3 linked regions of the Homo sapiens genome follow. The protein of the gene in region 1 interacts with the protein of each later gene in a pairwise test. Each region holds a gene or a part of one and is shown in the gene's direction. Other genes may lie near its edges. The genes, in order: JAKMIP2, CCDC88B and NAB2.

Region 1 (3,747 bases):
AAACTAAGAAGATGATACTGTAAATCACATGCTCCCTGACTTAGTTCTGTTTAGAACGCCAACATCTATAGGGAACATGGGCCAGAGAGCATCTCTGAATCTTTCATTTCCAAAATACTGTTTTTCAAATGGCTGCTTAAAATTGCCTGCAAATGAATATGCTATATGATTTGGGCAAAAACACAGCAGAATCAATGAGTAAATTTCTACCAAGAGTCGGGTTTGCCACAGAGATGTGAATATTAAACTAAACTATTATTTTTTAAAGAATCCTCACATGCCTAGAGCATTCTGACCTCTTCTTGTTTAGAGTGATAACATTTTTTCCCAGACAGATGACAGCAACAAGATAGCTCTACTTTTTTATATGGAAATAACATTATGTTACTGACAAGGTCATTTTCTACCAGAGACAATTAGAGGACTGGTACTTTTCCTAAGTTGTGTATTACTGAGTCTTGGAGTCATCTCTGAGAGCAAATGTATGTTCCTGAAAAGCTAATTTTACACCTCATTTACTGTAGATAACAGAACAACCTCAATTTTTCAAATTTTTGAAGTTTTATTTATGGGGCTAGAATTCCCATGCATAGAGAATATGTGTAGGGAGCCAGAAACTCTTTCTATGAAATGCTATACAAATCTTTCCATATGTGGGTTCACTATCATCCTTCAGTTTTAGCACTGGCATTTGCAAAGCCAGAACAATAACTGAAGAATGTACAATAAAAACTAGAATGCTGGGGTCCCACTTTTTGTTCTTACATTTACTGCTGACCCAGGTATCTTTGGCCCAGTCACTTAACCTCTCTGTGCCTCAGTTTCCTCATCTGCAAAATGGGGTTAAAATGCTTTTTCATAAAGTTTTATTTGCAATTTTAGAACAAGAGGTGCTTAAAGTAGCACAATGTGCTTTGTAATTATTACAAGTGCTGTATTATTTGACTTTCTTGTGTTGTTGACAAAAAGATTCCCTCATGTAATAAAATAGTGCTTCAGTTTGGTTAAATTTAAGCACTATAGCACTGAAGCTTGCTTATCAAGCTACTTGGGACATTATTAGCAATAAAAATTGAGAGATTCAAAACCAGGATCTTTAATAATCTATAGGAAATAGATCATCTCATGCTATTGAACAAGATAGAAGAGTGTGTCATTTCTATGATAAGCATCTCCCAGCTCTCTTGATTGCATATGCATGCCATCATACAGAACCCCACTTTTACCACAGGAGAGCCAGTCATTAAACAAAGGCTTGGAGCAAACTGACAGTATCACATAATTAGCTTGATTATCTTTTATTCTGGAGGAAAGCCAGGTGGTATGCCCTACTGGGAAGATACAAAACAGACTATCCTGCTGTATTCTTTTTTTTTTTTTTTTTTGAGATGGAGTCTTGCTCTGTTGCCCATGCTGGAGTGCATTGGCACAATCTCGGCTCATGGCAAGCTCCACCTCCTGGATTCAAGTGATTCTCCTGCCTCAACCTCCCTAGTAGCTGGGATTACAGGTGCACACCACCACACCTGGCTAATTTTTGTATTTTTAGTAGAGACAGGGTTTCACTATGCTGGTCAGGCTGGTCTCGAACTCCTGACCTCAAGTGATCTGCCTGCCTCAGCCTCCCAAAGTGCTAGGATTACAGGTGTAAGCCACTGTGCCCGGCCTCCTGCTGGATTCTTTATTCAACTAGGTAGGTTCCAGATTAAATATGAGCCATATGCTCATTAGGCAAGAAATGTGAAAGAGGGTGCCTCTACAGTGTTGGTGACCCAACACTAGCCAACTTGAGTCAGAAAATATGGAAGAGGATAAATTACTCTCACATATCTAAGACTTTTCCATTTTTCTTCACTTTCTGTTGCAGGGCCCATATGAGTAAATCTATATTCCGTCTGCTCCAACACACACCTTCCTTCTCTTAATTTTGCTTTCCCACCCACCAAGAAATTTGTAAGTCAAAATTTATTTCCATGAGTAACTATTTCTAAATGATTGAAAATTTTTGAAAAAGTGGTATGGTTTATATACCTAATCTGCTTATCTGCTATAAGTCATATGAGAACAACAGCTAGGATGATTGTCCAAGCAGCTTTAGATGTGTTTAGGGCCAGGCAAAAGGTTTGCTTGTTTTTTCTTTTTGCTTAAGATCTGGGAGATTAGCAAATTTCTCAAGACTATAGACTGAACTGTAATTTTTACCAACTCTTGCTCATGAGCCTCAAAATGAATATATCCTTGAATAAAGTATAAATATTTCAATAGATACATCTCTCTATTATCCATTTTCACAATTATAAAAGCATCAGCAAAATTGTGGATATGTGTTCCAGTCACTCATGGATCCATGGAAATGGACCGTGTTTAAATGAATGCTTCCCTTGGATGGGATGTTCAGCAATAGCAAAAAAAAAAAAAAAAAAGTTATCAATAACTGAGATTTCCTGTGGCCCCACTTCTGCATCTGTACTACCGAGATGCATTTGGCTACTGAGTTTGTAGCAGTCAGAACAGCATTCTTCCGGGTTCATTAACTTAATTTTTCTCAATAAAATATTCATACCCTGGAAAATAAACATAACTGACTACTAAAGATAATTTGAGATAAATAAAAGACCCAATTTAAATAGTTATTCAGGATAGAAAAATTTCATGAAAGAGGGGAAAAACATAGAGAGACTATCTTTGACTATCATACTTAAAAAGCATCTATTACTAAATTGAATGTCAAACTTTTCTTTAATGCCACCCTACTTTTAGGAAATAGAATTTGCTGAAAAAAATTACAACCCTTCTGACTTATGCTATATAAATTAAATTATTACCAACAGTTAGGTTTTAGGGGTGGAAGAATAGATCTTGATTTAATTTTTTTTTTTTTTTTTGGCCCACAAATAACTGCTCATACAGGTTGTATGTGTCTTCCCAAGTCCATAAGGTAGAGCTGATATAGAAGGCCTGGGTTATCACTTAGGTAGAGAGCAAATGTGTTCTCCACTAGTAATAGGAGAAATAAAGTTTGCCAAATAAATTTTGCTGCAGTATTTTGTTTCAACTTTGCTTTCAATTTTAAATAAATCTCTGGCAAACTTGTTCCTTTTTGCCCATTGACTGTCAAATTTTCCTGTAAACCCATTGTGTAATTCTTATGTTTGCTTTAACATAATTCACAAGTTCATTGTTTCAAAATGAAGCACGTCTTTTTAACCTGCCTAGGTTTTTGTAGAAACTGTAAAAAGAATATTCATTGGTTTTGTGTTGATGTTTAAATAATTGGATCATCTGTGTTATATTACATCAAGATAGATGGACAGCATAGAAATTTTATTTTTAAAATATTTAATTGCATTATTTCAATCTGTCAAAGAGTGGCACAGAATACACACACAAACACACACACACACACACACACACACAGAGCAATAGAAATTTGCTCTGTAATTTGGGAGTTGCATTGCTTGTTGCCTTTTGTGAAATTTTCATAACAGTGTTTTGGTAATTAATGACAGCTTTTGGCAGTTTAATTCTATCATTTTACTAATTTAGATTTATCTATTACATTGAAAAAATTCAATATAACTTTTGAATGATAAACATTCAAAGCAAATCTTAGATGACTGTTTATGTCATGAGTTTATGCTTCCAATATGGACCCAAGCCCCTCTTTAAGCAGACTTCTAGGTCTTAAGTGAGGAAAGATGTCATTGTGTTCTACTGCCTTGTCATTTCTATATAATGTAGTATCTT
Region 2 (3,747 bases), on another chromosome or scaffold:
GGGGTGCTGGAGGCGTCCAAGGCGCTGCTGGAAGAGCAGCTGGAGGCTGCCCGAGAGCGCTGCGCCCGGCTGCACGAGACCCAGCGCGAGAACCTGCTGCTGCGAACCCGGCTGGGCGAGGCCCATGCGGTAAGGTAGCCAGAGTGATCCCACTTGGGTTGCCCCGTCACCCCATGACCCCATTGATTCCCTAGTGGTCCCTAGTGATTCTTGCAACCTCTGCTCTTGGTGACCTCTAGTGACCCTCCGACCTACACACTCGGCCTGGCCATGGTGTGGAGGGCTTGTCTGACCCTTCCCTCACCCCCAGGAGCTGGACTCTCTGCGGCATCAGGTGGACCAGCTGGCTGAGGAGAATGTGGAGCTGGAGCTGGAGCTTCAGCGGAGCTTGGAGCCACCTCCAGGATCCCCTGGGGAGGGTGAGGGACCCCACTGGAAGGGCTGGGGTGGGGGCTTCCTATGCTTTCCAGCAGTGTACTGGGGAGAGCCTCTGACTCCCTCCCTTCTCCCAAGCCTCTGGGGTGTGTATGTGAGGAGCCAGGCAGTAAAGGAGGGGTCCTGACCTCATCTCTCATCCTCAGCACCCCTAGCAGGAGCGGCCCCCTCGCTGCAAGATGAGGTGAGGGAGGCAGAGGCTGGGCGGCTTCGGACCCTTGAGAGGGAGAACCGGGAGCTTCGGGGGCTGCTTCAGGTGCTTCAGGGGCAGCCAGGGGGCCAGGTAAGTCCCCTCCCCCAGGGTCCTGGCCGGCCCTTCCCCTAGTCCCTCCCTGGGCCTGACTGTCCCTCTCGTATGCCCTCAGCACCCCCTGCTGGAGGCACCGAGAGAGGACCCTGTTCTTCCAGTGCTGGAGGAGGCTCCCCAGACTCCTGTGGCCTTCGACCACAGCCCTCAGGGCTTGGTTCAGAAGGCAAGGGATGGAGGCCCCCAGGCCTTGGACTTGGCTCCCCCGGCATTAGACTCAGTGCTCGAGGCATCAGCTGAGTGTCCCCAGGCACCTGATTCAGACCCACAGGAGGCAGAGAGTCCCCTTCAGGCAGCTGCCATGGACCCCCAGGCCTCAGACTGGTCCCCGCAAGAGTCAGGCTCTCCTGTGGAGACACAGGAGTCCCCGGAGAAGGCTGGCCGTAGATCCTCTCTCCAGAGCCCTGCCTCTGTGGCCCCACCTCAGGGTCCAGGGACCAAAATTCAGGCCCCGCAGTTGCTGGGAGGAGAGACAGAGGGAAGAGAGGCTCCCCAAGGCGAGTTGGTGCCTGAGGCCTGGGGGTTGAGACAGGAGGGCCCTGAGCACAAGCCAGGGCCTTCGGAGCCCAGCTCTGTGCAGCTGGAGGAGCAGGAGGGCCCAAACCAGGGCCTGGACCTGGCCACGGGACAAGCAGAGGCCAGAGAGCATGACCAGAGGCTGGAAGGGACGGTCAGGGACCCAGCCTGGCAAAAACCACAGCAGAAGTCAGAAGGGGCTCTTGAGGTCCAGGTCTGGGAAGGCCCAATCCCAGGGGAGAGCCTGGCCAGTGGTGTCGCAGAGCAGGAGGCCCTCAGGGAGGAGGTGGCACAGTTGAGGAGAAAGGCTGAGGCCCTTGGAGATGAGCTGGAAGCCCAGGCCCGCAAGCTGGAGGCCCAAAACACGGAGGCTGCCCGCCTCTCCAAGGAGCTGGCCCAAGCGCGAAGGGCAGAGGCCGAGGCCCACCGGGAGGCAGAGGCCCAGGCCTGGGAGCAAGCCCGGCTGCGGGAGGCAGTGGAGGCTGCTGGCCAGGAGCTGGAGTCTGCGTCCCAGGAACGGGAGGCGCTGGTGGAGGCGCTGGCAGCAGCGGGCCGGGAGCGGAGGCAGTGGGAGCGTGAGGGGTCCAGGCTGCGGGCCCAGTCGGAGGCCGCCGAGGAACGGATGCAGGTGCTGGAGAGCGAGGGCCGCCAGCACTTGGAGGAGGCTGAGAGGGAGCGCCGGGAGAAGGAGGCCCTCCAGGCGGTAGGTCAGGTTGGGGCTCACCGCTGGGGTTGGGAAGCAGAGTTCCAGGCTGTTGGGAGTTACTGATTCCATCAGCAGCTGTTCAGTGGGTGCCCAGCACTGAGCTGGGGCTGGAGATAGAAAGGCCAAGTCCACCCCTGCCTTCCAAAGGTGTGCCTGGCCTGGGGCACAGAGCCATGTCCACTGTGTGATGGGGGCGCTGTGGGAGGGGGTGGGACTGCCTAGTACACATCTTGGCTCTCTGGCTGCAGCAGTAGACTCACCTCCACCCCAGGCATCCTTCTGTAAAACAGGGGTACTATTCCTGGCCACCTGGGGTGGTCTTAGGAGGACCTTGGGAGACAGTAGCTGTAAAGGTCTGGTTCATGCTGGCAAGGGTATGTTGTAAGTGTTCAAGCACTGGTTATTCAGAGCCAAGTGCTACGAGAGCCCATGGGAGGGTGAGCTGATGCCCAAGTGGAGGCAAGGAGGCTTTAGGAGGAGTGACCATAATGTCACTAGGTGGGGAGGACATTTTGTCCAGAGGGAATGGCATGTGCAAAGACAAAGGCATTAAAGACGCTCAGGGGCTGGGTGTGGTGGCTCACACCTGTAATCCCAGCACTTTGGGAGGCCGAGGTGGGTGGATTACTTGAGGTCAGGAGTTCTATACCAGCCTGGCCAACATGGTGAAACCCTGCCTCCATTAAAAATACAAAAATCAGCCAGGCGTGGTGGCAGGCACCTGTAATCTGTTACTTGGGAGGATGAGGCAGGAGAATTGCTTGAACCCGGAAGGCGGAGGTTGCAGTGAGCTGAGATTGTGCCACTATACTCCAGCCTGGGCGACAGAGCGAGACTGTCTCAAAACAAACAAACACCATCCAATGAAACAACAACAAAAAAAGAATGCTCAGGGCCCAGGAGGAAGGGATGATGAGGGCCAGCTTTGAATGTGTTGGTCCTCCCTCCCCAGGCAGGGAAAGCCAGGGTAGAACTGTGTGGGGCTGCGCTTGAGGAGGGTCACCTTGGTGGACAGGGGAGCTTGGGGCTATCAGGACGCAGTAGCCATGGTGTAAGTGGCAGAGGAAGCTGACTAGGGAGGCATGGGAGTGGGTGTGAGAGGAGGACTGGACACTTTTTTCTTTTTGAGACAGAGTCTCCCTCTGTTGCCCAGTCTGGAGTGCAGTGGGGTGATCTTGGTTCATTGCAACCTCCGCCTCTCAGGTTCAAGAGATTCTCCCACCTCAGCCTCCTGAGTAGCTGGGAGTACAGGCACACACCACCACGCCTGGCTACTTTTTGTATTTTTTTTTTTTTTTGAGACGGAGTCTCGCTCTTTCGCCCAGGCCAGACTGCAGTGGTGCTATCTCGGCTCACTGCAAGCTCCGCCTCCCAGGTTCACGCCATTCTCCTGCCTCAGCCTCCGGAGTAGCTGGGACTACAGGCACCCGCTCCCGCACTCGGCTAATTTTTTGTGTTTTTAGTAGAGACGGGGTTTCACCATGTTAGCCAGGATGGTCTCGATCTCCTGACCTCGTGATCCACCCGCCTTGGCCTCCCAAAGTGCTGGGATTACAAGCGTGAGCCACCGCGCCCGGCCAATTTTTGTATTTTTAGTAGAGATGGGGTTTCATCATGTTGGCCTGGCTAGTTTCTTTCTTTTCTTTTCTTTTCTTTTTTTGAGACAGAGTCTCCCTCTGTCACCAGGCTGGAGGCGTGATCTCGGCTCACTGCAACCTCCACCTCCCAGGTTCAAGCGATTTTCCTGCCTCAGCCTCTCGTGTAGCTGGGACTACAGGTGCAT
Region 3 (3,747 bases), on another chromosome or scaffold:
GGCCCTGATCCCCTCCCCAACAGGCCCCTACCCCAGCGGCCGCAGTGCTTCCATCCTCAGCTGAGGGGGAAGCAGAGATACAGGCAGCACCGAGCTGTTCAGCTCCTTGTCACTCAGGACCCCACAGGAGAGGAGGAGGCCCCGGGCATTCCTAGGAAGCTGTGGGTGCTGACCTCTGTCTTCCCACCTCAGAAAGCTCCCATGTAGTGTCAAAACCAAAGCAAGCGTCTGATGGATGGGCCTCATTTGTCCAATGGTGAAGGGGTGTGAGGAGGTCTGGTGAGGCAGCGGGGAAGTTCGAATTCTGACTCTCCTGGCTGCCCTCCCTCCACAGCTCACCATCAACGAGGCTGCTGCCCAGTTCTGCATGAGGGACAACACGCTCTTATTACGGAGAGTGGAGCTCTTCTCTTTGTCCCGCCAAGTAGCCCGAGAGAGCACCTACTTGTCCTCCTTGAAGGGCTCCAGGTGAGACCCCTTCCCCAGGTCCTTCCTGGACTGGAATCCTGCTATGGAGTTAGATCATGTCCTAACCTTCAGCTCAGGCAGCTCTAGGCCTGCTTCCCGCCCACCTGGATGTCCTGCTTTTGGCCAAGTCAGCTTGTCTCAGGTCTGGTCTCTCCTCCCATCCATGTCGGGTCCCCCCAACCCCCTACAACAATAGTGCTTGAACTAGAGACTCTTTCTCGGCCAGCTTCTTGGCAAAGGTTTTAAATAACACATGCCTCTGGCTGGGTTCTGTGCTCTGCCAGTCGAGTGGCCCTCGTCAGCCTCATCCACTTTATTCTTACCCATCTTTTCAGGCTTCACCCTGAAGAACTGGGAGGCCCTCCACTGAAGAAGCTGAAACAAGAGGTATGTTTTCCGGGGTGCATATAGGGGCACTGGGCAGCCTTCCCCAATCCCCTCCCTTGGCAGGTCTTCATTTCCCCATGTTGGGCATCCACAGGTTGGAGAACAGAGTCACCCTGAAATCCAGCAGCCTCCCCCAGGCCCTGAGTCCTATGTACCCCCATACCGCCCCAGCCTGGAGGAGGACAGCGCCAGCCTGTCTGGGGAGAGTCTGGATGGACATTTGCAGGGTGAGTGTGCCTCAGAACACTTTTCTCTTCATTGAGGGTGGGGGAGTAGGGGAGGGGGTTGGGGGAGGAGTGAGCCAGGAGGCAGTGCCTGAAACAGGGTTGGGAGACCTGGCTGGAGGGGGGGCAGAAGGGCCTGTGGGCTGGCTATGTGGTTGAGGGTGGGGGTTCCATTGGCTGCAGCCCCTTACCTGACCAGTGCCCATGCCCACAGCTGTGGGGTCATGTCCAAGGCTGACGCCGCCCCCTGCTGACCTGCCTCTGGCATTGCCAGCCCATGGGCTATGGAGCCGACACATCCTGCAGCAGACACTGATGGACGAGGGGCTGCGGCTCGCCCGCCTCGTCTCCCACGACCGCGTGGGCCGCCTCAGCCCCTGTGTGCCTGCGAAGCCACCTCTCGCAGGTGAGGCAGCCAGCAGTGCTGTCCCCAAGCACCCCGGCCACTCAGGCCCCACACAGCAATTCTGGTGTCCTGGGGCCAGGTGGGAGGAAGAGGGATATAGTCGTCAGAGAGGGCAGTAGGATGGCTGGGCTCCAGCCAGCCAGGCCTTGGGGTGCAGAGAGGCAGACCCTGCCGAGCTGCTCCCACCATGGAAAGTCTGGTCCTAGTGTAGATCTGTGAAAGGGGAACTGGGGAATGGGGGGACAGAGAAAAGAGGATGAAGGAGCAGGAAGGAGGAGCATCAATAAGGGAAGCTCAGATGGCACTTCCACCAACCCAGGAGTGGGGAGCAGGCTAGGAGTTGTGGGTATGGGGATGGGGATGCCCAGCTTGGAAGCAGAGGAGCCCAAAGCAGTGATGCTTTGTGTGTGGAAGGGGGAAGAGGGAGTGGGCAGGCGGAGGGCCGGGCAGCCGCTGGGCTGAGAGTGACGCAGCAGACAAAGCCACCAACCCTGGCTTGGTATTTTTAAACTGTGCGTGGGTGGGAAGTGGGGGCGGGGACTGGAAGGGGGGCTCTTCTTGAGGGAGGAGCTCGGAGGCTGGCTTCCTGTTCTCCCTCTGATTTGGCTACCAAAAAACTTGGGGGGCCATGGTAGAGTGGCCTGGGAGGGGCCTGGGAGGGGGCCAGGGATGAGTGGGGGTGGCAGAGCTTGGGAAGGGGGGAGGGGAGAGGTCAGAGCCAAACCACCCCCGCAGCTCCTGACAGAACCAGAAATTCCAGCGCAACCGAGGAGGCGGGAGAGAAAGAGAGAGAGACAGACAGAGACAGAGCTACGCACAGCCAGGGAGGGGAGGGGGCTCACACACATGGGAATGGAACCCCCCATACACATGCAGTGGGCAGGAGGCAGTAATTCAATAAACCTAAACTGAGCCCATCTTCACAGCTTTCTTTGCCCCTGCTTCTGTTCCCAACCACCTCTGTCTGCAGCCAGTCACCCTGCAGTCTCCTAACTGCCCCCTTTTCCCTGCAGAGTTCGAGGAAGGGCTGCTGGACAGATGTCCTGCCCCAGGACCCCATCCCGCGCTGGTGGAGGGTCGCAGGAGCAGCGTGAAAGTGGAGGCTGAGGCCAGCCGGCAGTGAGGGTTGGACTGGTGTCTTCAGACCCAGGACCTCAGACTTCTGGCTCACACAGACCCCCACGCTCTCCATCCCCGGAATCTAGTCACAACCCTGGATCCTTCCTCTGCCCTTCTCCTGCCTCCCCACCTGCTCCATGGGCATAAGACTGTGGGGCTTCAAGCAATAACAAGCAGAGGCCTGGAGAGAGGACACAAGGAGGGTGCGTGGTGCCCTCACCCCTGCCCAGAGCGAGGGGGCAAGGACTCTGCCTCCAGGGCATCTGGGGTTTTCCCCTCCCTCACACAACACACTCCCATTCTCTTTAGGTTTGCACCAGTGGTGTGAGCAGTTGGACTCAGTTTGGACAAGGGGGAAAGGGGGACTTCCCTGGGAAGGTCCAGCTAAAAGTGGCAACATTTGCCCCCAGAATTGGGGGCCTGGGAACACTGGACCTGCTCCTTCTCCCCTCTCCTTCCCCGTTTTTGTGCTTCTGGTTTGTTTCTTTAATTAATTTAACAAGTGCTGCAGTTTGCCCTCCCATTCCCATCTATCCCCCAAGTCCTTTGCAATTTCTTCCCTGCCCTACATAGGGGCGGTGGGTGTGGGATCCCTTCACTGGCCCCCTCGGGAGGCCTGGGTTGGACTCAGGGTCTCCTCCAGCTGGGGGCTGGACCGCAGCACCTATCTGAGCAGTTAGAGCGTCTTTCTTTTCAGATTGTGTACAGTAGATTATTTATTTTGTTATTTTGGAATAAAATTTATTTTATGGCTTAGGATCTATGACCCCTGCCTTGAGAGGGAGAATGGGATAGGGGAGTGAAGGGAAGCTGGCGGTGGATGGGGCAACAGAAAAGATGCAGCAGGCAGGGCCCTCTCATACACTGGAGGGCCACATGGCCAGGCCTGGACCCAGACTCTCACCCTGGCTCCCAGGCAGCATTGGAGGTGTGGAGCCATACGTAGATGTCACAGCCACTTGGACCCACTTGGGCACAGTCAGACTCCAAATTCAGAGTATTTGGGGGTTAGCATATGTCAGAGAGGCCAGCACACTTGCTGCTGTCTTCTGTGCAGTGTCTCACCCTCCCAAATTTGTGTTGTCACGTAGGCAAAAGCAGATAGACACATGTTCTATGTGGTCATGCAACTAAGGTGCCAGC

Evidence for each region.
Region 2: the proteins of JAKMIP2 (region 1) and CCDC88B interact in binary tests that used the Homo sapiens proteins (3 or more experiments, as listed by UniProt).
Region 3: the proteins of JAKMIP2 (region 1) and NAB2 interact in binary tests that used the Homo sapiens proteins (3 or more experiments, as listed by UniProt).

Annotation. Positions count from the first base shown.
Region 1 is NC_000005.10:147,587,085-147,590,831, reverse strand, and holds part of JAKMIP2 (janus kinase and microtubule-interacting protein 2), read left to right. Parts: 3' UTR 1-3,747.
Region 2 is NC_000011.10:64,343,197-64,346,943, forward strand, and holds part of CCDC88B (coiled-coil domain-containing protein 88B), read left to right. Parts: coding exon 1-129; intron 130-310; coding exon 311-419; intron 420-581; coding exon 582-718; intron 719-800; coding exon 801-1,961; intron 1,962-3,747. UniProt on the Homo sapiens protein: Acts as a positive regulator of T-cell maturation and inflammatory function.
Region 3 is NC_000012.12:57,092,114-57,095,860, forward strand, and holds the end of NAB2 (NGFI-A-binding protein 2), read left to right. Parts: intron 1-334; coding exon 335-468; intron 469-803; coding exon 804-855; intron 856-949; coding exon 950-1,082; intron 1,083-1,293; coding exon 1,294-1,485; intron 1,486-2,498; coding exon 2,499-2,608; 3' UTR 2,609-3,363; downstream 3,364-3,747. UniProt on the Homo sapiens protein: Acts as a transcriptional repressor for zinc finger transcription factors EGR1 and EGR2. Isoform 2 lacks repression ability.